3 separate regions of the Homo sapiens genome follow, and regions 2 and 3 are each linked to region 1. The links come from fine-mapping of genetic effects on gene expression. A gene starts in region 1. Each other region holds a variant in brackets. All regions are shown on one strand. Distances are from middle to middle.

Region 1 (8,303 bases):
TCCTCTCCAGCACCTGTTGTTTCCTGACTTTTTAATGATTGCCATTCTAACTGGTGTGAGATGGTATCTCATTGTGGTTTTGATTTGCATTTCTCCAATGGCCAGTGATGATGAGCATTTTTTCATGTGTCTTTTGGCTGCATAAATGTCTTCTTTTGAGAAGTGTCTGTTCGTATCCTTTGTCCACTTTTTGATGGGGTTTTTTTTTTCTTGTAAATTTGTTTGAGTTCACTGTAGATTCTGGATATTAGCCCTTTGTCAGATGAGTAGTAGTCATTAAGACTCAGCAGATTCACTTAAAATTCAGGATACCCAAGGCAAAAAAAGTATTTTCCAAGTAAAATAAACACCTCTAATTTGACTTTAAAACACAATGTAGAATCCCAATTTTCTACTGTAACTACCTTAATTCAGGCTTCTGCAGCCCACACCTGGATTACTCCATATTCTCCCTGGCGCTGGCCTCTCCTACACCAGTTTGTTCTGTGCACCATCCTAGGTTAGAATTTTTCAAATAATAGGTTGTGAAATACATTTAGTGGATTGTGATCAGAGTTTTTTAAAAGATGAAAGAGAATAAAAAGTAATAAGAATGGACTGCATGTTGTAAAAGTTAGCATTATTTTATACATTTTTTTTTCAGTTACAATCATATACCTACATGTGTACTGAATTGCAATGTAAAATATATTTCTTATTGTGGTCATGGTCAAAAAGTTTGAAAAACACTGCATTAGAATAATCTTCCCAGACACAGTTTTCAACATGCTTTTCCTCAGCTTTGATTCCTATTTAAGGATAATAATGGCTAATATATATTAAGTACTTATGCCAGAGACGGCGCTAAAGAGTTTTAAATGGTATTATCTCTTCAGCACAACTCTGTGAAGTAGGTACTGTTATTATTCCTGTTTTACAGATAAGCAAACTGAGGCATGGAGAAGTAACAATTTGCTCAGAGTCACCCAGCTAGTAAGTGGAAGGGTTAGGATTCAGTCCTTGGCATCTGGCCCCAGAGCCCATCCTCTTAGCAGCTAAATTATCCTGCCTGTACTCCTTAAGCCCAAAGAGTTTAATGCCTAACTTATTTCTTTAGCCTTAACACTTCCCTCTCCATTTTAACTGGGCATAGTACCTTGCTGTCTCCTGAAACCCCTTTTACTTTCAAAGCTCTTCCTCTGTTTAAGCTAATTCCTCAACATGGGAATGGATGGGGGTGGGTTGGCAGGGTTGGCTGGTTGTCAGGAAACTAAATCTAGTCTGCCAAATATTTTTGTAGATTAAGTTTTACTGGGACAGAACCATACCTATTCATTTACGTACGGTCTAGGCCTGCTTTTGCACTATGATGGCAGAGCTGAGTAGTCACAAAGAAGACCATACGGCCCACAATGCCTAAAATATTTAACATCTAGTTCTTTACAGAAAAAATTTGATGACCCCTGCTCTACATCAAAGTCCCATTCCTTCCTCTCTACTTAATTTAAATCCCCCACAACGTTCCTAGCCTAGGTCAGGTTCCATCTCCCATGGGAAATTTTCTCTGATACCTCTAGCCTACTACCATGTGTGCCTTGCCTTGACCACCAGACTGCTCCTCTTGGGAGCAGGAAGTACCCCTCTCATACTTCTATATCTCCACCATGACCACAGTACTTTGCCTAGAAAGAGCAGGATAAACATTTATGGATGGAAATGGAGTTGGGAGAGACTATGTTCAGTTCACCCAGCTGACCCATCAATAAACCAACTTTAAGGATAAGGGTGAGGGTAAGGAGGGTGAAGGAGTGCTGGTAAGCAAACACCACAAATGGGGGAAGGTCTTACCTTCTGTTCCACACATTTGATAAAATCACCTTGCCTGGAATGCCCCACTGGCTGCTTCCGAAATTCACTGCGTTTCTCCAGGCGGGACTCAAAAGCAGCTGGGTCTGACCTGATCAGAGGTAAACCAAAGGGTAAACCAACTGGGCCTTTTTGAATTCTAAAATAACAAAGCATCACTTTCCACCTCTACAGAGAAAGGACACTGCCATTCAGAGAGGTTGAAAAATTTGCCTTCAGTTAGTAAGAACTGGGCACAGGCCTAGAAATAAAGAAACTGGAAAAAGAAATCCTGTTATTCAACTGTTGTTAATCCTCAAGGGGCCTGTGTAACATTTTTCTTTTGCAGGCTGTTCCCTAGGTTTACACAGGGCTTAGTCTCTCAGGTACTTACATTCAGGGTACTTAGAATTTTGAGGTCATCTTGCTGGATCACCTCTTCAGACAAGAATCCTATAGCCTCCTTACTAGGTGTCAAGCTTTTACTTGAATACATCCAGTTCTTGAAAATATGTCCCCCCAACCAGGTTAAACATCTGCTTTATTCAGATCCTGGTGATTCAGAGGCTTTAGGTAGCCTATTTTGCAGAAGATTTAGCATCTGAGTATCTCCCTAACCTACCCTCCAAAGAAGCTGCTCTTGGAGATGAAACAACAGAACACATTGTTTATGTCAAAATGGGGTTGGTCTTCAGGTTTGAAGTCCAGGCTGGGGTGCTGTCCCTATTAAGAATTCTTCAGACTGTGTAGCTAACCATGGGATATTTGGTTTTGTACACTTTGGTGAAGATATCATCCAGGGATTCCAGCTCTTTGGCCATGAGACCCAGAGTTTCATGGGTGAGGTCTGGAGGACCCAGGGACATCTTGGCTATCCCTCTGGTGGACTTTCCTGGTCAATGCATTATAGGGGGCCCCTTCTTCCATAAAATTCCTTTCTGGAGGTGACATAAAACACCACTCCCTTCACTGTCATGTAGATGGGATGTTTTTCTTCTCTCTGTAGTGGGCCGGCTCCTCCTCAATAAAGAGCCTCACCAGGGGTTTCTGCTTAGTCGGGCATGGCACCTGCCTGGCCAGAGCTGCAAGCAGCCCTGGGGGCTGTACCAGGACCAGGGTCAACCCTGCTAGTGGCTACAGCTGCAACTGGGCCTGCCATAGTGAAGGGGTAGAGAGGGCAAGGGACAGCCTGGGCAGTGAAGCTGTTGCTGGGATCTGAGGATATAGAAATAAATAAGTCAGACTCCCTACCTCAAGGAGCTCACTATCCAGTGGGAGAGACAGGCATAAAAGTAAACAAATGAAAGTACAACAGGTATTATGATGAAAATTTGCTCAAACATCCCCAAATGGTTAAGGTGGTTTCATGCCTCTGTACCTTTGTTTATGTTGCTGCTCCCCTTACCTGGAACATCCCCTCCTCTCCATTCTTTTTCAAAGGAAGTTTGCTAACAGATAAAACTAGAGAGAGACTGGCAGGGACTAGGGTATGAGGAACTTGTGTGAAACATTAAGGAGTTTGGATGTTATTTAGAGGTCAGTGGGGGGATAACAGTATGTGTAAATGTTGATGGGAATGATCCAGTGGGGAAGGACGGTAAAACCAGTTATTTATTTGTTCATGAGTGGGTAAGAATAAATGGATGCTGATAAAGTATTCAAAGTACAAGTAGACAACTCTTCAGAGATGCTTGTGTGTAAAACAGATCAAATACAGATCAACGAGAGAAGCCTGGAGGGGAATGTACATCAAAGAAAGGCTTTTAAGATGACAAATACTTGAGACTATCTCAATGCTGCTGGAAGGAGAGCAAAAATACTCATTCATTTACTGCATAACTGTTTCAAATGGCAAGAAAGATCACTACAGTAGCAGTGAGAGGAACTGGGGTAAAGTAGTCCAGGAATGGAAGTAGGGAACTCTAGTTAGAGGATAATGGCAACAGCCCAGGTGACGATGATGGAGTAGATTAAGGCAGTGGAAGTAGAGATGAGACAGAACTCAAATTTACAGTACTAAGTCTTTGGTTTCCTTTCATAAGACAACTACCTTCTTACCCTGCTAAATTCTCTCCCAAGCCCCTTTAATTTTCACCTCTGATCTCCTTTAGCTCTTCCCACTTGAACTCTTCAGATGCTCCTATAGCCCCTCATATGCACCTTAAGCCCCTCTAAGCTCCAGATCCTTCCCTCTGGAAGCTAAGAGGTGGTGTTAGGGACCCTGGACTCAGAGTCAGACAAATCCCAAACAGCTGTGTGACCTTTGGCAAGTCTCTTACTCTCGCTGATCCTCAGTCTCCTTAAGAGGGTTCAATGGGTGATCCGACTGTGACACTATTAGTCTTTGATGCCCTCCTCCCATCCCCAGTCGCCTTTCCTTGCAGTCAAGGCCCTAAGCTACCACCAGCCTGGGAACTCCAGCTCTGAGCCAGGCCTCAGCTATCTTAATATGTGACCTTGAGCAAGTCAAGTCCCTTCTCTAGAAGGCGTTTTCCCATTTCTATAATGAGGACAGGTGTCTCTGAGCTGCCTGCCTCAGGGCTGTCATAAGAGTCCACCTTAGCGTTTGGAGAACCAAAGCAGACAAACGTGGAACGAGCCAGGGCTTTGCAGAGACTCCCAGCTCTGACACCAATTAGCTGTGTGATCTTGGGCAAGTGACCTAGCCTCGCGGAGCCTGGCTACATCATCTGAAGAGCTGGGACAGTACTAGTGCCCACCTCACAGGGCTGTCCTAAGGCCCAGCAGCCCGGGCCGCCCCTCCTCCCGCCTCCTGCCCGCCTCCAGCCAACCCAGGCCCGCACCTGCGCAGCAGCTGGATCTTGTCGCGGTAGCGGTCGTAGAAAGGGTTGGCCTGGAGCTCGGCCTCGGCCCCGACCCCGCTGCTGTCGGCGCCCCCCTCGGGCCGGCCCGAGCCGGGGCGCACTGGGAAGACGCGCAGCTGCGCGGGTGACACGAGCCCCAGGCCCAGGGCGCGGCTGCGCACCGCGCACAGGCCCCGGTAGAGACCGGCCACCTGCAGGACCGCCGGTCCCGCGCCACCCGCAGCCGCCACCACCACAGCAGCCATGGCCGCCCCCGCCTCCTCCTCCTCCTCAGGCGCGTCGGCCTCGGCCCGCGGCCCGCGCGCCCGCTCCATCCCGCTCCGAGTGCGCCGCGCCCGCGCTCCGGCACCGAGGTTCCGCGCGCCCAAGGTTCCGGGCGCGGGATAGCGGCGAGGCGGGGCGGGGAGGAGGGGGCGCGCCGCTCTGGCCCCGGCACTGCGCGCTCTCGCCGCCCTGTGTATGCCACGGCCCGCCTCCTCCAGGGAGGCTGCCCAAATTCAACGCCCTTCCTCCCTCTGGGACCAGCAGCCTCTGCGCGCCAAGTCCGTTCTCTAAAGCCAGCGGATCTCCATGTCCTCGCGGTGCTTGCCCCTGGCACTCGCTGTAGTGCCAGGCACTCGATGTAGTAGTCCGTCCTTCAGCATCGAAGGTCTTTTCATCAACTATAATCACAGCAGCAAGCTTCTCTTTACTGAGGTTGCTATGTGCAGGACACTGAGCGGCTTCATACTCTGTGTGGCAGTATTATCCTCATCTAACAAATAAGGAAACTGAGGCCGAGAGTAATTATGTGACTTGTTCAAGTTCTACCCGACAGCTGAGCTCTTTTCAAGATGGCAGCTGCCTCCCAAGCCTCCTTTTCCTCTGCTTCCTGACATCCTCCTTGAACTCCAGCCACAGTGACCTATTCTCTCCCAAAGAAACACCAGGATTACTCCTTGAAGAGTCCTTATTCAGGCCCTTTTTGACCCCTGGAATCCTCTCTCCTTCCATTCTCTCAACCCAAATGCCACAATCTTCCTTACCGTCTGAACCAGGTGTGAGCTCCTAGGGTCAGGGACAGTGACATTAACATCTCTGTGTCCCACCTGCTCACAGAACAGGGCCAGTCCTGGAGTGGGCTCTCTGGGACAGTACTCATCATCAGGTCCTTCTTGTCTGGGTTTTGTCTGATTGAAGCCCCTCCTGGGACAGGGGCAGAGCCTTCAACTCTGCTCAATCCAACCTATGCTCATGGAGATCAGCCCTGAGCCCTGCCCTGTGCGAGGAACAGTGTAATGGAAGATGAATAAGTCCTTCAAGTATGCCAGCCCATACCTGGCTCACACTCCTAACACTTGCTGTTTTCTCTGTGGATCTGCATGTGGCTGCCTCCTCATCATCTAAGGGCTCAGTTCACATGTAAGCACCTCCAAGGGACCTAAATGACAACCCCTCCATCTCTTTATAGTCTTTATCCCATCACTCTATTGCATTCTCTTTATAGCAGTTATCATTATCTGAAGTTCTTAGATCCTTGTTTATATTAATTCATTGAGCTTACATTCTAGTGGAGTGAAACAGACAGTAAATATATAATGTTAGGTGATGCTACATGGTATGCAGAAAAACAGCAGGCCAAGAGAGATAGAGATAAGGGGACACTTGAGCAGAGACCTGAAGGTAATGTGGGAATGCTGGGGGAAGAGCCTTCCAGGTAGGGGAAACAGCAAGTGCAAAGGCCCTGATGAGGAGGTTATTGAGTCTGAATGAGTGAGGGCACAGCAGCAGAAATGAGACCAAGAAGGTATAGGGAGGGCTAGTTAGATTGCTTAGGCCTTGGTTAAGGACTTTGATTTTAAATCGAATGAGATCGGAAGTTACTATATGTTTTAAGCAGTGGAGTAACATGATCTACTTTTTAAAAGGATCATGCTGGCTGCTGGTGGGATTTAGGATATGTGGAGGCAAGGATGGAAACTCTCCCAAGGGTGACTAATTTATTCCAGTTTGCCTAGGACTTTCTTGGCTCTAGCATTGAAAGCCCCATGTCCTGAGAACCCACCCCAAGTCCTGGGCAAACCAGGATGTTGGTCACCCTACAGGGAACAGTAATCCAAGTGAGAGATGGTGGTACTTGGACTAAAGTGATAGTGATAAAAAAAAGTGGCCAGATTTTGGTTATATTTTGAAATAAAAGCCTAAAGATCTTGCTGATGGAGTCAGTGTGGGTGTGATAGAATGAAAGGAGTCAAGGATGACTTGCAGGTTTTTGGCCTGAACAACCCGAAGGACAGAGATACTACTTATGAAGAGGAGGAAGGCTGTAGGTAGGGTAGACTTTGGAGGATGGATAATCAGAGTTTGGTTTTGGACATGTTGGTTTGGGATAATTTAACAGACTGGCAAGGAGGGATGTCAACCAGGTATTTGGGTATGAGTCTAAAGTTCTGAGGAGCATTCCAGGCTGGAGAGATACAGTTGCGTACTGTCAGTGTATAGTGATATTTAAAGCCAGGGGTCTGGGTGAGATAACTGATGGAATGAATGTAGATAGAGCACTAAGAACTGAGCCCTAGACATGCCTACATTTAGAGATCAGGGGAAAAGGGAGAAACCAGCAAAGGAGACTGGAAAGTAGGGGCCAGTGATATACGAGGAGAACAAGGGTAAGTGGACCCTGGAGAGAATTCTGTGCTAAATAGTTCCCTAAGTCACACATTGGAGGACTATAAAGAGGGGAGTCATTAAAATGGTGCTAAGAAGCTGAGCTACAAGCAGTGGTGCAACATACTGGGAAGGCTGACTTAAGCTTAATTAGGGAAGGGCTTTCTAACTGAGCTGCCCATAAATGCATCAAGCTGCCTCAGGAGGTGGTGAGCAAGTTCCTGACTCAAGTGAGTCTTGAGTCCAGGGAGATTAGTTGCTGTGTGGGGAAAAATCTACCCCCAGGAGTCAAGCATGGCCCTGATGGTGGGATCAGATGGTGGAGATGAACTAGACAACTCTCAAAGTTTCTTCAAATTGGCGATGATATGATTCTGGGCAGTCTGTCACAGAGTAGGGGGGCTGAGCTGAGTCTTGAAGGATGAGCAGGTGTTCAGTGGTGGAAAAGTGGGCAGGGGCACTCCTGGGTGAAGGAGCAGCATGGGCACACCTCCAGAGATGTGAATGAGCAGGGTCTGTTCAGGAGTACGGACTAGGCAAAAGGGAAAAGTGTGTGGAGGACGAGGAGGGAAGTAAGGCTGGAAGTAGATGCAGGCCAGATGGTGGGAAGCCCCACAGGGCCTGGGGCCTGGGAAACACTTGTCAGCACTTGAAGGAAGGTAATTAAATAAAAGACAGATTGTTGGAGCCAAAGAAGGAGGTATTGACCACTTGGTTCCCTTGAGCAGGTTTCTTCCTGCCAACTTGGTTAGATACTTTTTGAGAACAGGGCTGCCCAATGCTGTGTGTTCCTTGTTACATTCCTCACTGGGGACAGGTATCCCATCAACCGTTCCCTAAAGACCAGCAACATCCGTAAGTACCTGAGGGACAATGGCCCTTTTCTGGGGTCTGCTCTGTGGGTTCACCATAAGGGGTAGGTACAGACAATTCAATAGGTGAACCAGTCTCTGATGGAAGTAGTAGTGACATTCCACCCAAAAAATGCCACTGGATGAAGTCCCCTCC
Region 2 (8,303 bases), 28 kb after region 1:
GTATTGCCAATGGAAGCTACACTCTGAATGGAAACATATAGGAAGGTGTAAAAAAGCTTTAAGAGACAACTGACATGCAATAAACTGTACATATTCAAAAATGTATAATTTGAATGTTTTGACACATAAACAATTGTGAAACCAGTACTACAATCAAGATAATAAACACTCATCACCTCTGAAAGTTTCCTCATGACTCTCTGTAATCACTCCCTTGCCGATCGTTCCCAGGCAACCACTGATCCACTTTCTGTCACAATAAATCAGTCTTCATTTTCTAGATTTTATATAAGTAGAACCAGTGAGCAAGTAGTGCTTTTTAAAGTGTGGCTGCTTCTACTCAGCAGAATTGGGATTCATCCATGTTGAGGCTACTTGGCAGGCTGCCGAGCAGCATTCCATTGTGTGGCTCTATCACAGTTTATCTCTCCCCCTGCTCATGGACATTTAGGCTGTGTTCAATATTTGACTATTACAAATGAAGCTGCTATAAACATTCGTGTTCAGGTCTTCATGTGGACTTATAGACATTCCCCTTTATCATATGCTTTCTAATCGCCATAATACCTAGCAGGTGAATGGCTGATCATATGGCAGGTCTATGCTTCACTTGTTAAAAAACTGCCCAACAATGTTCTAAAATGGTTATGCCATTTTACATTCCCACCAGCAGGGAATGAGAGTTCCTGTTACTCCATATCCTCACCAATCCTGTACCAATATTGGTACAGTCATTCTTTTCAACTTCAGCCATTCTAATGGAAGTGTATATTGTGATTTTAATTTACATTGCCCTAATGAAACACTGCCCTAATGAAAATCGGTGTTTCTGATTATTTCAAATATCTTCAAACTATGATTACATGTAGTGTATACTGAGATAATTAACAGGACTCTTTCTCTATCAATCAAACAAGTAATTTTCTTAATTTAAATGATTTTTCCTAGAGGAAAACCAAATCTTCCCTAAAGAAAAAATATTAGTTTATAAATCTGGAACCCAGGGATAAGGTTCTCTCACAAACTGCCTCTGTCAATCCCTGCTGTGGGAAGGCAGATGGCCGAGCTAACACAGTAGACTGCCACTTGTTAGGAGCAAAGGACACTTCGAGCAAAAGTGGGAGGGAACCATATCTGGCTTTGGGAAACTCAATACTGCAGAGATGAAAAAAAAGTAGAATCCTGTCAGCAACCACTGAATAGGGATATGAGTAGTGGCTTACTTTGCTTTCATTAGCCCTAAAAAGCCCAAGTGGACAGGGAACTTGGAGATATAATTCAGAAGCCATGTTTTAAAAAAAGCCTGTCCTAAGGGAACATCTAAAAGGGTGTTACTATTCAGTGAGTTTTGGCCTTTTCAAGACATGCTGACAGTTTTACAGTGCCACATTAGTATTTTTAACCAAGGTCATTTTTATTACACTGATATCCAAGAATCCAAGAGAACACGAGATGACACTAATAAAAATTACATGAGATACAATAAAGTTAGGTATTTGGCATGACCTACCACTTCAAAACTGAGCCACTTGAAAGAAACACAGTGCCTGGCATGATAAACACACAGATTTGCAAAGAGACAACACACTGGGTAAAAGTATCTAAGCTGGTTTGCTATCTATGTAAGCTCTGTTGCTATCTATGTAAGCTCTGAATGCCTGTTGCAAAAGCTACAGGCATTCAAAGACACCTACTGTTTGTGAATCCAATCCTCACTGGCTGGATGTATGAACCCATTGGGATGCCAGAAGATAGTAAGCTCTTGTTTAAGGATTTTTTTTTTCTTTTCTTTTTTCCCCTAAGGAAGCAACTGACAGAGCCATGTGAACTCTGGAGCAAAACTCTGAAACTAGTATTCCCATCAACAGCAAAGTGCCTGGTACATACTGGAGGAAGTTCCACAAATGTTTATTGAATGAATAAATTCAAGAATAAACCAGTTTCCTTTTCTGGTACCAAAACAGAGATATAGACCAATGGAACAGAACAGAGCCCTCAGAAATAATACCACACATCTACAACCATCTGATCTTTGACAAACCTGACAAAAACAAAAAATGGGAAAGGATTCCCTATTTAATAAATGGTGCTGGGAAAACTGGCTAGCCATATGTAGAAAGCTGAAACTGGATCCCTTCCTTACACCTTATACAAAAATTAATTCAAGATGGATTAAATACTTAAATGTTAGACCTAAAACCATAAAAACCCTAGAAGAAAACCTAGGCAATACCATTCAGGACATAGGCATGGGCAAGGACTTCATGTCTAAAACACCAAAAGCAATGGCAACAAAAGCCAAAATTGACAAATGGGATCTAACTAAACTAAAGAGCTTCTGCACAGCAAAAGAAACTACCATCAGAGTGAACAGGCAACCTACAGAATGGAAGAAAATTTTTGCAATCTCCTCATCTGACAAACGGCTAATATCCAGAATCTACAAAGAACTTAAACAAATTTACAAGAAAAAATCAAACAACCCCATCAAAAAGTGGGTGAAGGATACGAACAGACACTTCTCAAAAGAAGACATTTATGCAGCCAACAGACACATGAAAAAATGCTCATCATCACTGGCCATCACAGAAATGCAAATCAAAACCACAATGAGATACCATCTCACACCAGTTAGAATGGTGATCATTAAAAATCAGGAAACAACAGGTGCTGGAGAGGATGTGGAGAAATAGGAACACTTTTACACTGTTGGTGGGACTGTAAACTAGTTCAACCATTGTGGAAGACAGTGTGGAGATTCCTCAAGGATCTAGAACTAGAAATACCATTTGACCCAGCCATCCCGTTACTGGGTATATACCCAAAGGATTATAAATCATGTTGCTATAAAGACACACGCACACTTATGTTTATTGCGGCACTATTCACAATAGCAAAGACTTGGAACCAACCCAAATGTCCATCAGTGATAGACTAGATTAAGAAAACATGGCAGATATACACCATGGAATACTATGCAGCCATAAAAAATGATGAGTTCATGTTCTTTGTAGGGACATGGATGAAGCTGGAAACCATCATTCTCAGCAAACTATTGCAAGGACAAAAAACCAAACACTGCATGTTCTCACTCATAGGTGGGAATTGAACAATGAGAACACTTGGACACAGGAAGGGGAACATCACACACCGGGGCCTGTTTTGGGGTGGGGGGAGGGATAGCATTAGGAGATATACCTAATGTAAATGATGAGTTAATGGGTGCAGCACACCAACATGGCACATATATACATACGTAACAAACCTGCACGTTGTGCACATGTACCCTAGAACTTAAAGTGTAATAAAAAAAAGAATAAACCAGTTTCCTTTTCTAATGCAAGACTGTGAGAGCTGCTTCTGTACTAATGGCTACAGAAGCCTATCATTTCCTGAATTGGCCCTAGGAACAACGGCAAGAATCTGGCCTCATCAGAGTTGTCCCTACCC[CT/C]TTTTTTTCCCCCCGAATTTGTAAGTAGATGGCCACATTGGACAAGTAGCAAATTATGGAGACTGAGCACACACAGATGGTGTGGCTATAAAATAGCAAATTTTGTCTTCGCTTATGGCTTAGAAATTTCTTGCTCCTTTGTGGAAAGAATTCATATGCTCATAGACCCTGGCACATAATCTGACCAAACTTAGCACATATTTTTATAATTCAAAGATCCTAGATTTGATATCCACCGTTTGGGGAATCCCTTCTTCCATTTCCTGTGTCAGGGGATGATGTTCTTTATGTTCGAATTAGGCACCTCTTCTGCCTTCCTACCCCTATCCACTCTTCCCGTCCATCTCTAAGGATCCCTGAGTACTATTCATCTGGTTGGTCACAGCTCACTGTAGCCTCAACCTCCCAGGCTCAAGTGATCTTCCTACTTCAGCCTCCCATGTAGCTGGGACTACAGTTGTGTGCCACCATGCCCAGCTAACTTTAAAATTTTTTGTAAAGACGAGGTCTCCCTATGTTGCCCAGGCTGGTCTGTAATTCCTGGGTTCAAGTGATCCTCCTGGCTCAGCCTCCCAAAACGTTGGGATTACAGTCATGAGCTACCATGCCCAGCCTCCAAAGTGATTTTTACCAATTAATACTCCTAGCAGGAGCAGGAGTGTTTGAAAATTTCCTTCGTTCCACATATCCTTGCCAACACTTGTTTCCTGAATTTTTAATTTTTGCATTTCCCCAGGTCATCTTTTTTTTTTTTTTTTAACTTTCTTAATTATGGAAAGTAACAGAGATTTAGGGTAACTATCATGTACAATTGGTCTGCTTTGATGAAGATATTGTGAGTGGTGAACTGAAAAAGCAAGCTGAAAAGCGAACCCATATATGCTAACACAAGAGTGCCAGCAGAGCAATTCTGGGACTCAGAGAGCCAAATAAAAAGGTATGAACCCATATAAATCACAGCTGAGGTAACCTGTTGCAAATTAAAGGCCTAACTAACCAGACCAAAACAAAATTGTTCTGAATTCTTTAGGACACAGTGATACACTCCATTACTGCCCTCTTGGAGCAGCTGATTTCAAATGCTAGGCTTTCAATGAAAACTTATAAGAAGCTAGAATTATGGCAAATAGTACCCACACATGGCACCTACCTTCTGAAGTCTCTGTACCCACACATGGCACCTACCTTCTGAAGTCCCTCTACAGTGGTAGGCAGGCTAATCAAGTCTGCAGCTGACTTAACATTGGCTTTGAGGTGGTTCACTGCAGAAGTCAACAGAGAAATCTGAACAAAAAAGAGTAACAAACAATGAAAACAAATGAGAATTTGTAGAGGACACGTTACCTTCACAAACTCTACGGTTGGTGATGTCAAGATAGTCTAGGATTTTATGTGTTTCTGCAACCCTGTCAGCTCACAGAAGTAAAGGAGACAGTACTTTGGATAGAGTTGGGATCTGGGAGGCAACAATAATACCCCTTCTTTCCCTGCCCAATTTGAACACTAGTGTCAAAGAGTGAAGGCAAGTGTTATTCTTTACCCTGTCCTGGCAGCACAAGATCCCAAAATCTTAAATTACTCAAAAGATGCTGTAATTATCACACACTCCCTCAACAATTGGACAGGAAGAAAGCTAATGATGAAGGATCACTTCAAAATTTCATTTTGGTAAAATGTAATACCTCAGTAATTTACCAAACTTTTGTTCCTGCCCAAGTGGGAACATATAAAGTAAAAGCCCATCTCACAAAATACAGTCTACAGGAACTGCACTCTGACAATTTGAACAGCACTTTCAACTACTTGGGGATTTGGTTTTGGTTTAAAAATGTGACTAATATTTCAAACTCAATAGCTCTACCAGAGCACTACTTTGTATCCTGAAGGGGCTCAATAAATACTCACTGACTCACTGACTGATGCAATGTATGTATTAAAATAGGAATTTAATCAAAATAAAATGAGGCTTCCGTTCTGCTATTTAGGCATAGAATTCTAAACATCTAGACTTCGCTCTTGAATGGGAACTGGGGGAACCTGTGTAATAGTCAGTTTCAGGCTGCAGAGACAATATTCTAAAAGCTTTGCAGTTTGGCTCGAAACACTTGAAAGACTCTTAGTTCTAAACCGCTTTCCCATTCTAAATTCTAGGATGAGAACACAGATCTACCAATAGCAATTATATTCAGAGTGGCCTCAGAGTACCCACCAGTTTCTGGGCACTTGTTATGGGCCAAGCACAGTGGTAGGCACTGGGGGGTGTAAGACAAAACAGAACCTGATTCCCTACTCATTCCTTTAGCAAATGTTTGGCATCTCTGTGCCAGACACTGCTGCAGTCATTGTGGAGACAGCAGAGAGGCAAACAAGACCATGAAGCTCTGCTCTCATGGAGCATACATCCTAGTAAAAGGTGACAGAAAAACAAAGAAAAGAAATCAGATTGTAATAAGTACTGTGCTAAGAATTTTTTCCTTTCTCTCTCTCTCTTTTTTTTTTTTTTTTTGAGACAGTCTTGCTCTGTTGCCCAGGCTGGAGTACAGTGCAGTGATCTTGGCTCACCGCAGCCTCTGCCTCCTGGGTTCAAGTGATTCTCGTGCCTCAGCCTCCTGAGTAGCCGGGATTACAGGTGCATGCCCCTACACCTGGCAAATTTTTGCATTTTTAGTAAAGATAGGGGTTTCGCCATGTTGGCCAGGCTGGTCTTGAACTCCTGGCCTTAAGTGATCCACCTGCCTTGGTCTCCCAAAGTGCTGGGATTACAGGCATGAGCCACCATGTCCGGCTATGCAAAGAATTTAATTTAAACAAAGCTCCCTGAGTAAGTAGTAGTAGCTTGGTCTGAGACAGGGAGTCTGGTAAGGAGCCTGGGAACTCGGGAACTCAAGTTCTCTTTTCCCTCTTTTCTTTTAGAAGGCAAAAGTTCAGAGGCTTAAGATGAATTTTCAGCCACTCACTAATAAAACAAATACTACTGGACCCTATTATTCACCACTGGTGAACAACACAGATGTCAGGGATCCTGTGGTGTTTACATTTTAGTGCAAGCAGACAGACACTTTTATATAGAAAAATATCAGATAGTGGGAAGCACTAGAAAAAAATTAAAATAAAGTAACTTGACAGGAGTGACTGGGTAGCAACTTTTAGACTGATCGGTCTGAGGAGGCCTCTGTAAGGAGATAAAATTTAAACTGAGATCTGAATAGTAAGAAAGAATTAATCATATGAAGATTGGATGAAGCCTATTTCAGGGAAGAGGGAACTGCTAGACCAAAAGTCCCAGTACAGGAAAGAGCTTGGCATATTCAGAGAACAGAAGTTTAGGTGGCAGGATCTCATAATGTGTGTGTGTATGTGAGAGAGACAGAGAGACAAAGTAGGTGGTGAGGCCAGTTGTGCAGTAAAGTGCCAGAACAGACAGGACTCTGTAAACCAGAACAAGCACATGGGTTTTACTTGAGGTGTGATAGGCAGGGGTGTGTAAGCAGGATAATTACATGAATGGAGACACCTTGGAGGAAGACTACTATGGCTGTCAGTAGAAATGGAGAGACCAGTAAGAAGGAGATCTGTGTAGTCTCGGCAAGAGATAATGGTGGTTTAGACTTGAGTGGTAGTAGAGGTAGTAGCAGAAGTAGAGATGATACGATTTGCTGGGACTGGGTGTTAACAGTGGGGAAGATAGAAGAATTAAGGGAAACTCTTAGGTCTCTCACCTCAAGGAGCTTTCAATATAACTGAGAGACAAGGCAAGAGTACATTAAAGAAACAATTAAGCATTAAACGTGATACTGAATAAAGTTCTGAGAAAAGGATATCAATGCAAGCTGAAAGAAACAGGCTTCGCTGAAGGAGGACTCAAATTGGACTCTGACAGAGAAGTTAGAATTTTATACATAAAAACCAAGCAGGCATTCTTTCTAGGTTAGAAGGGTGAGGGTGGCATCGGGGGATAGGGAACACAGTATGAACAGGCTCAGGAGTACTTTCTTTTCATAGCACTTCTCAAAGTGACAATGATTTGTTTAGGTGGTTATTTGATTGAGGTTTCTCTCTTCCACAAGACTATAAGCTCCACATGATCAAGGACCATGTCTCTTTTACTTTCCACAATACCCGTGATACAAAGACTGGCATTTGTTGAATGAATGGCTGAGAATTAACACTCTGTGTCTGGGATGGACATTGAGAAGGCTAGTCTAAGCAGAGTAGAAGACAGAGGCCGGGGGGTAGGAGATAAGGCTAGATAAGTAGTGAATTTATTCTTTTCATCAGTAACTGGGTATAATAATAATAACAACAACAACTATTTAACAACTATCTTATAAGGATACGTGATGGTTTCAAAATATGTCTACAAATTCTTTGATAGTCTTCTTCCCTTCAAGAGGTGAAACCTACTTCCCCTTCCCTAGAGTGTAGCCTGACATAAGTAACTTGCTTCTACAGAAGAGAATAAAGTGGAAGTGACAACTGGCAACTTTAGAAATTAGGTCACAAAAGGTCCTATGCCTTCTTCTTTGCTCTCCTTGGATTAGTCACTCTGGGGAAGGGAGCTGCCATGCTGTGAGGACACTCGAGTAGCCCCAGAATGACAAGTCCATGTTGGGAGGAACTGAGGCCTCCTACCAAAAGCCATGTGAGTGAGGAACCTCCAGCCCCAGTCAGACCTCCAGGTTATAAAGACCCGGATGACATCTTAATTGCAACCTTAGAGATCTTGGCCAGAACCAGTCTGCTAAGCTGCTCCCAAATTCCTGACATATAGAAACCGTAAGATACTAAATGACTGTTGTTTTAGGCCACTAAGTTTTGGGGTAATTTGTAACCAAGGAACAGATGATCAATA
Region 3 (8,303 bases), 52 kb before region 1:
AACATTCACACAGAAGTCCTCAGACCCCCAATCCTGGAAATTATGAATTCTGCAAGAGTTAGTTCAGACAGCCCTCATTCCTTCAAATATTCAACAACACGAAGAACCTTCCATTTATGAGCAAGGCCTTGTGCTGGGCCCTTCACACCTTTTGCCTCTAATCCTTAGAACAATTCGCCTGATGTGTCTGATTGTCACTTTAGATATGATAAAACAGAAGTGCTTATAAAGGTGAAGCTGCTAGCCCAAGGCCACATAAGTATTAATCAGTGCAGAATGGAGACTGGATTCAGACCCTCTTTGCAGTGCACTGCAGCGACCCTCACAGATATTGGGACCCATGAAAAAGGCCCCGCTTCTGCATAGTCCCCCATGCTCAAGGCAGAGATCTTGGTGGCTTATGCCCTCTTCTCTGTGTGGCAGTCACCCAGGGTTTTAGGCATCGATACCTGGAGTCCCACAGGCCCAGGGAGGTATGGCCAGCAGGGACTATGAATCTACATTCAGGTCCACAGCTGGCCCACCCGGCTCTGTAGACCCCCTCCTCTTCCTCACCATTCCCAGGTGGGGTCGAGCCTTCCCTCCCTCTGAGCCCCTCCAGCCCAGCCCAGATTCCTCAGACATATCCTGCCCATGTAGACTTGGGGTCCTGGGCTCCCACAGATCTGAGCCCCAGTTCGGAATTCCTCCCAGTTCAGTGCACTTTCCCTCAGTAGCCTCAAGTTTCCTCCTATGTAAAATGAAGGTGCTCCTTGTCGGGCATGACAGTGCAAGAAACAGCAGGCCACTGGCTGGGGAGGAGCCGTGGGCATTGAATTGTGACTCAGTGCCCAGCTTCCTTCAGCATTCAGACTTCTCCCCTCAGGGCTTGACCACCCTGCCCCACCCACCGCTGATCCACACAGCCTCTGCAGAGATGAGCTCCAGGCCAGGTGGGGGCTGGGCCCAGCTACAGGTGCGGCTGGTGTGATGAACACAGTGTCATGCCTGCTCAGCTCCTGGACCAACAACCCCCTCCTGCTGCCCTCGGGTGGGTAAGCAGTGCCTGGGTGACATCACTCATCTCCCCTCCCTACCCTCACCCGCCCAGGCTGCCCAGCTGAGATAAGAAAAGGCCCCACAGCCTGTGCCTGGCAAGGGAAAATTCTGTCCTCAGAGCCCCAATCTGAGGTGATGATACCACCAGGGCCCACCCAACCACCAACTCCCTCCTTTTCCTGAGGCCAGGAGTCAGAGGGAACCCCGGGAGGCTGGAGGTCAAATCAGCTATGAACACCTCGGGGCAACTGTTCTGGAAGGTTCTGAGAATCACAGCATCTGTGGTCTTGCCAGAGTGGTCCTTGGTGGGACCACTTATGCTTTAGAAAAGAAAAGCCCTCTGAGGTGGGTGGATCACCTGAGGTCAGGTGTTCGAGATCAGCCTGGCCAATGTGGTGAAACCCTGTCTCTACTAAAAATACAAAAATTAGCCAGGCGTGGTGGTGGGTGCCTATAATCCCAGCTACTCAGAAGGCTGAGGCAGGAGAATCGCTTGAACCCGGGGGGCAGAGGTTGCAGTAAGCTGAGATCTCACCACTGGGTGAAAGACCGAAACTCTGTCTCAGAAAAGAAAAAAAAAAAAAAAGAAAGAAAGAAAGAAAAAGAAAAGAAAGAAAAGCCCCAAATTGGGAGTCAGGAAGTCCTAGCAAATGCTTGACCTTGAGCAAGGCACTTAACCTGTTTCAACCTCGCTTTCCTCTTCCACAAAATGGGGATGAAAATCAACCCCCAACCCTGCAGAGTGTCTATATCAAACTAAATCCTCATCTGTGGAATGGGCTCCCAGTGGCTCCCTCCCCGCCAGGTGACACTCACCAACACGCGTGGGAAAGACCTCTTCGTCGTTGATGAGGCCTTCGATCCAGTCCATGAGCAATGCCATATAGCGCGGCGCAGAGAGCTTGGCGGGCCGCCGGTACTGGCGCTCGTCCTGCCAGCGGTACTCGTAGCGGGGCCCGCCGGCCATGACCGGGCAGCTGGTCTCACTGCAGCGCTCCGCCATAGTGCCGTAGATGAGGTTGATGCGGTTGAAGAAGTCCACCACGTGCACGGCGATCCAGTCGTCGATGTTCTCCCCGGGTGGTAGCCTCACCACACTGCGCAGGTCCAGGCCCGACTTGAGAGAGGCCTGTGCCTTCTTGTACAGCTCAAAGCGCTGTGTGCCCGGCTCAAAGCGCTTCCGCGGCCGGAACGTCTTGTCCTTGGCGAACACCTGCTTCAGGCACAGGGCCATGGCCAGCTGGGCCTGGGGCTGCTGTCCAGGGGCTCGGACCTGAGGATACCCTGCCAGGGACAAGGGCATAGGGGAGCTGGCGGTCAAGGCCTTATCATCTGGGCTCTGACTTCCCAATTCATCATTTCCCTGTCACCTCTCAGCCTTTGCTCAACCTCTGCATCCTCTGCCTGGAATCTAAGTCCTCAGCCCCTAGGTCCAGTGCCCCGCCCTCTTTCCAGGCTATGTTAGTCCCCCTTGCTAAGCCCCCACAGTCCTCCCATCTTGCTTTGTCTCTTTTCTGCTTTCATTGCAGAGCTGGGCCTGGGCTCTAAACAGGTGCCCCTCAGACTTGCTGTTGGTCACGAGAGAGGTCGCAGAGGCTCCCTGCAGGCCCACCAGCAGACAGGGGCTTGGACGAGATGACCTCTGGGAGCCCCCTTGGCCAGCTGGTGCAACGTGGGAGAGCCTCGCAGCATTGTGCTGGGGGCAGGGTGGAGGGGGGTCGGGGGTGGCTTTCGGCTTCCTCTGGGATATCCCGTAGTCCATCCGGCCACCGGGGATTCCCAGGGAGCAGCAGGGAACTTTTCTACCAAAAATGTCCTTTCCTTTTTTTTCACCCTGAAAGAGGAAAGGGCCCTCCCGCTGCCAGCTGGGCGGCTTCTGAGTGTGGCTGCAAGCACTGGAGGAGGGGGAGGGCGGCAGGCCAATGAGGGCGTCGCTTCCTCTGACAACAGCTGGAGATCCTTCCCCTCAAGCCAGCCTCCTCCAGCCCCAAATCTGAACAAGCCACTGGCTCCTCCCGTTGCACCTGACACTCAGTAGACATTCCTCTAGCAACTACTATGTGCCTGGCACTGGGAGGTAGAAGAGTATAGTCAGATGCACCCAGGAGGGCCCATCTAGAGCTCAGGCAAATTTACTTTGCCTCCTAGAATTTAAGGATCCCAGATTCAGAACAAATTTTGGGAGACAGTGATCAGGGCCCTAGGCTCAGAGGCAGGAGTCCTGGGTTCTAGTCCCAGCTCTACCACTGGCTTACTGGGTGACCCCTGTATCACCATGGATTTAGCCCATCCAGGTCCTGGGTCACTCTGCTATAGCTAGGTTTCTAAGACCTGAGTCATCTCATCTCAACTGTGAGTGTGTGAGCTACTGGGAAATGCAGACCCATGTACCTACCAAAACTAGAATTTAGCCACCCACTAAGCACACTGCCCCTGCCCCTAGACTGAGCACTAAGGCTGAGTATAAGCTAAGAATTGCATTCTGGTTCCTGGCTGACCTCTGACCTGGGCTCTGGCAAGTGTGAGCCCTGACTCTAGCCTTTAGCCCTACCCTGAGGCTTGCTTATGGCCAAAGCCTGGGCTTGACCTCTGACGCTGGAGCACTGTCCTTTCTCACATCTCTGGTAACCCTGGGACAGGATTGGGGAAGGGAGGGTGGGAACCAGGTGACACCTGGGTAAAAGCAAAGGGATGGCACATATTTCGGGGAGGGGTATTACTTCTGGCAAGAAGTCAAACTAGCTGGGGAGCTGTTTGAGACAAAGGTCCTTCCTTGAACCCACAAAGGCAGGCCAGGATGGGGGCAGTCTGGTAAAATGAGAGCAGCTTGGAGAGTAGAAACAGGCCATTCAGCAGGAACTTGTTCTCTTGAAAAAAACTCACAGATGTGAAAGGTCATCTCATCCATCCCGACTCTTC[G/A]ACTTCTCACCCAAAGAAGTCCCCAGGGTGGGACCCCAGTTTCCAGAGCAAAGAGATTTCTGCGCTTCATTTGCCATCTCCATTTTAAACTCTGCTTGGGGCAAGTGCTTCCAAAATCCCTCACACTGCAATTAGGCGGGGCTCCTGGGCTCCCCACATTGCATGGCCCCCTTTATGACAGTTAGAAATAGGCCCCCACCCTGGCATTCAGCACCTTGTCCTACCTTTCCTGCCCCACTTCCCACCTCCCCACACCAACCACCCTGGGCTTCTTCCTGATTCCTGAACACGCCCCCACTCTTTTGCCTCTGCATGTTTTCTTATCCCTCCACCTGCCTGACCACACATCCTCAGATTGGCTGCTACCTCCTCCCACAGCCTCCTCTCCTGAACTCAGATCTCCTTCTCCTTGGGTAGAGGCTGCTTTTGGTCATTGCAGTCTCCACTCCATCCCCAACCCACCCCCAGCTTAGGACAAGGCCTGGCACAAAGTCAGTGTTCAGGCTTTAAGGAAAGCTTAGACTAGAATCTTAGAGTTAAAATAGCCCTGATAGATCAGCTGGCCCAACTCACTTGTACAGATGGGGAAACTGAGGCCCAGATGAGGAAACTGAGGCCTAAAAAGAGGACTTGAGGAGCCTGTGTCCACATAGCAAGTTACAAGCAGAACTGGGAACTGGGATAAGGTGGGGCTCAGCTCATGACCAAGAGTAAAAGACCATTTTCCTGCACTGGCTCATCAATGGTCTGGTGGAGACAGAGAAGAGGAGGGGAGTGGAGGGACAGTGGAAGCATCTTCTCCACCAAACAGCCCAACCTGCTTCCTGTCCCCAACACACTGACTCCGCACAGCAACTGGGGTGTCCTGACCAGTGAGCTAGAGTTCCACCTTACTCCTGTGGAACTTCAAGGCCTGGGTCTCTTTCCAGGAAAATGTAAGCTCAGGGGGTGGGTGCAGGGCAGGTGCTCTTCTAGCCACAGGGTTAACTCCCTTCACTCCCCACCCCCATGCCCTCACTGAGTTTCTATCTGTCACAGAACCTCTGTCTCTCCCTGAACCACTGCCGTTCCCCGTCCTAGCCCCCATTTCCCAGTGATGGCTATCCTTTCACTCCTGGAGTGGCAGTGCCTTGCTCGTTCCCTGGGTGCGGATCTGGGCTTCTCAAATGAAGACAGCAGGCTGACCCTACCTGTTTCTGATATTTAGCCCCCTGCTAGGCTACATCTACCACTCCTTGGGCCTGGCCCAGGATCTGGGCCAGAGGATGGCCCCAGTTTGAACCCAGAATCCATCCTGGGACTCTCTCTAGGACAGAGGTCGAAGAGAAAAAGTAGAGGCGAAGACTCCACGCTCTCCTCGCGGCGCGCAGCCACCCACGCCCACCCCCGGCTTCCCTGCAACCTCAAACCAGCTCCCAGGGCCAGGAAGGTCGTAGGACCCAGAGGAGCCCGCCTGACATTTCCGCTCCCCGAAAACACGCCCCCCAACCCCTCCCCTCTGCCCCGTACTCCCCCACCCCGACAATCCCCCCCGCAACTTTCGAAGCTCTGAGCCTCGGACGCCAGCCTCAGGACAGCGGCCAGCCTGCCTTCGGGCGGGACTCTCCTCCGGACTGTGCCACGCCAGGACGGCCGAAGAAATGAAAGTGGAAGCCAGGCGGGCGGGGTGCGCGGCGAGGCCGCAGGGGCACGGCGCACACTCACGGGTCCTCTTCTGGCCGTGGGGTCACATTCCCAGCCACAGGATCGCCTTTCTCCTGCAGGTCCCGCAGTGCCTGTTCTCTCTCCTGTCAGCCTGTCCGTCTGCCTGTCCTGCCGGCCGCGGCTGCCCTCCTGCCCCGGGCGACGCCAGCTCCGCCCCGGCCCCGCCACGCCGCGGCCACGGGGCGGGGAGGGGCGGAGAAAGGGGACTCCCCTCCACTCCAGTACACAGACGCACTCGCCCCCACCTTCCCGGAAAGTCCATATGGGGCTCCCAGCTTCCCCTTGGACAAAGGACTAACTGAGCTGCCCGCCCTCTCGGTGCTTCCTTGGACCTCCACCAAGGAGGCAGCCTCAAGTTCCCAGACAGTAAAATGGGAAAACGCTCGGCTTCTTCTGGAGCAGAAACAAGAGCTGCTAGATAAGGGTGGTTTCTTTGCCCTCCTAGAATCGTCTGCGTCACACTTGTCCCGGGACCCAATAAGGGATCGGGACCGTCCTATCCACTCCCATATCCTCAGCTCCTGGCACATAGCAGGAACTCAAAACCCACTTGATGAATGAATGAATGGGTGAGTGAAGGAATAAATGAACGCCTTGGGAATCATGAGCTGAGTCCTTCACCCCTGAGGGACAAGCCCCAGAAGAGCGCTCAAATCACAAACTTCATCTCCTCACCAGGGAGGGGGCCTGGCTCAGGTTGGGCTGATTCTCCTTGCTCCTTACCCAGAGTCACCCCATTTCTTATCTCCAGACCCTTATCCCAGCTGTTCCATTTTAGAATACCTTCTCTCCCTCCTTCCTTCTGACAAATCCAAACCACTCAAGATCTGATCTGCTCTCCCTACCACCTGGGTTCCTTCGAGGACAGACAGATATCCCACCAGCATTCAATGCACACCGTGGCCCCCAGGCCCAGGGACCAGTTGGCTGCTCTGTCTGGGATGGGAGGGAAGATTGGAGGCTTTCTAGGGTAGGAAGCCCAAAGCAGAGAGCTTAGCCATAGAAGCCACTCTGGAGGGGTGGGAGGTGAGTAGATGCGGGTAGGGGAGAGCTGGAGGCCAGAGGTGGGCATTTACCATGGCACACTGGACCTCCCTTGTGTCTGGACCTTCTGTTGCTGGATGACATGAGAACACGCTAGATCCTTAACCCAGATCATATCCTTTGCAGCAACATGGGCTGGAGCTGGAGGCCATTATCCTAAGCAGACTAACACAGGAATAGAAAACCAAATACTGCATATTCTCACTTACAAGTAGGAGCTAAACAATGAGAATACATAGATACTAGGAGGGGAACAGCAGACACTGGGGCCTGCTTGGGAGTGGAGGGCGGGAGGAGGGAGGATGAGACAAAAATACCCATCAGGTACTATGCTGCTTACCTCGGTGATGAAATTATCTGTACACCAAATCCCCATGACACAGAGTTTACTTATATAACAAACCTACACATGTACCCTTGAACCTAAAATAAAAGTAAAGAAAGAATCCCAGCTCATAGAACTGTGGGTATGTTCTTTTGTTGAGCACCAATTTTTGCCCCAGTCTAAAGTTCTCTGTATTTTTATGTCTGACTCTTAACTCTCTGCCCTGAATCCCCTATAAACAAACACTTGCTTATGGAGCAAATTAAACTATGCTTCTTTATTTATTTGATATCCTAATCAATATCTTTTATTGAGTATAACTCTCCACTCATATCAGATCAGGGGACTGGGTGATAAAGCTGACCTGGTTGCCGACCTCAGGTGCTGACAGGTCAGTAAAGGGGACAACACACAGAGATACACAAGGTCACAGCTCAGTCACCCAGAAGTGAGAATGTGGTTGTGGACTGACGGACTTTGTAAGAGTCGGGGTATTTGCAGGAAGCACATGGAACACCCAGAATGGGTATGTTTAATGAAGACATTATTTACAGGTATGGTCAAGGTGTAGGGAAACCACACAGTGTATCACCAAAGGGCTCACAAGAGCAGAGGCTGTCAACCCCAGGCTGCAGGAGTGTGGGGAAGGAATGGTGAAAGTGGGAGCTATGAGGAGGGCGCTGCTGTGGCCTAAGGTGGAGGGGCATACCCAGCTCACAGCAATCATACAGGGAAGGACAGGGGGCAAGTAAGAGGCCTCACTCTCCTCCCTCTCTCCCTCCGTCTGATCTCTGGCCAGGTTTCCCCCACTAGCTGAATCCTCCCAGAAGCTAAGAACAAGGGAACCTGTTGCTGCAGCCCATAGACGTCAGCCTCCTAGGGCGTAGAAATGGGTAGAGGGTGGAGAGCCATCTGAGGAGCCATGTGGGGTCAGGGCTGACTTCATAGGGGAAATGATTTGGAAACTGCTTGTGTTTTCCTTATCATTCAGTTCTAAATAGTTCATAAATTTCAGTGTAATTTCCTCTTTAACTCTTGAATGATTTCAAAGTATGTTTTTCAGTTTCTCAGCCTATGGGAGGTTTATGTTTTTCTTGTTGAGTTCTAATTATATTGCATTGTGGTCAGAGATCATGGTCTGGAAGATTCTTCAGAATTTGATGTGACTTCCTCTGCAGAGGCTTTGTGCAGGGTCATTTTCTGGACCTCTGAGCTGGGTTTTACAGGATAGGCAGGAGTTTTTCTGGTGAAGAGTGAACAGCACAGAACCTTA

Alleles and levels. Alleles are on the strand shown, and positions count from the first base shown. SD is a standard deviation of normalised expression in the study named. Not every link is listed here.
As copies of CT replace C in region 2, the expression in esophagus mucosa of the gene that starts at base 4,936 in region 1 goes down (moderate effect, 0.56 SD a copy in GTEx).

Evidence for each region. PIP is the estimated chance that this variant, and not a neighbour inherited with it, causes the effect.
Region 2: its variant is fine-mapped to the expression of ATPAF1 in esophagus mucosa (GTEx, PIP 0.95).
Region 3: its variant is fine-mapped to the expression of ATPAF1 in whole blood (TOPMed, PIP above 0.99).

The regions. Positions count from the first base shown.
Region 1 is chr1:46,663,429-46,671,731 of GRCh38, forward strand. ATPAF1 (ATP synthase mitochondrial F1 complex assembly factor 1) reads right to left here and starts at 4,936. Exons shown (of 9, transcript NM_001394565.1): 1 at 4,629-4,936; 2 at 1,828-1,936. The coding sequence starts at 4,894. It also overlaps the pseudogene NENFP1 and a transcript of TEX38 not described here. RefSeq lists enhancers at 2,382-2,911, 2,912-3,440, 5,236-5,385 and silencers at 4,506-5,125, 4,553-4,723.
Region 2 is chr1:46,691,915-46,700,217 of GRCh38, forward strand. It overlaps EFCAB14 (EF-hand calcium binding domain 14), which reads right to left. Exons shown (of 11, transcript NM_014774.3): 4 at 4,637-4,735; 5 at 1-23. EFCAB14-AS1 (EFCAB14 antisense RNA 1) reads left to right here. Exons shown (of 3, transcript NR_038828.1): 3 at 1-184. Among named protein-coding and RNA genes, the nearest start is that of EFCAB14-AS1, 22 kb to the left of the region's middle. The variant CT/C (reference allele first, on the strand shown) is at 3,451.
Region 3 is chr1:46,611,050-46,619,352 of GRCh38, forward strand. MOB3C (MOB kinase activator 3C) reads right to left here and starts at 5,762. Exons shown (of 4, transcript NM_201403.3): 1 at 5,662-5,762; 2 at 1,855-2,322. The coding sequence starts at 2,272. RefSeq lists enhancers at 2,212-2,835, 5,187-5,256 and a silencer at 5,657-5,936. The variant G/A (reference allele first, on the strand shown) is at 3,958.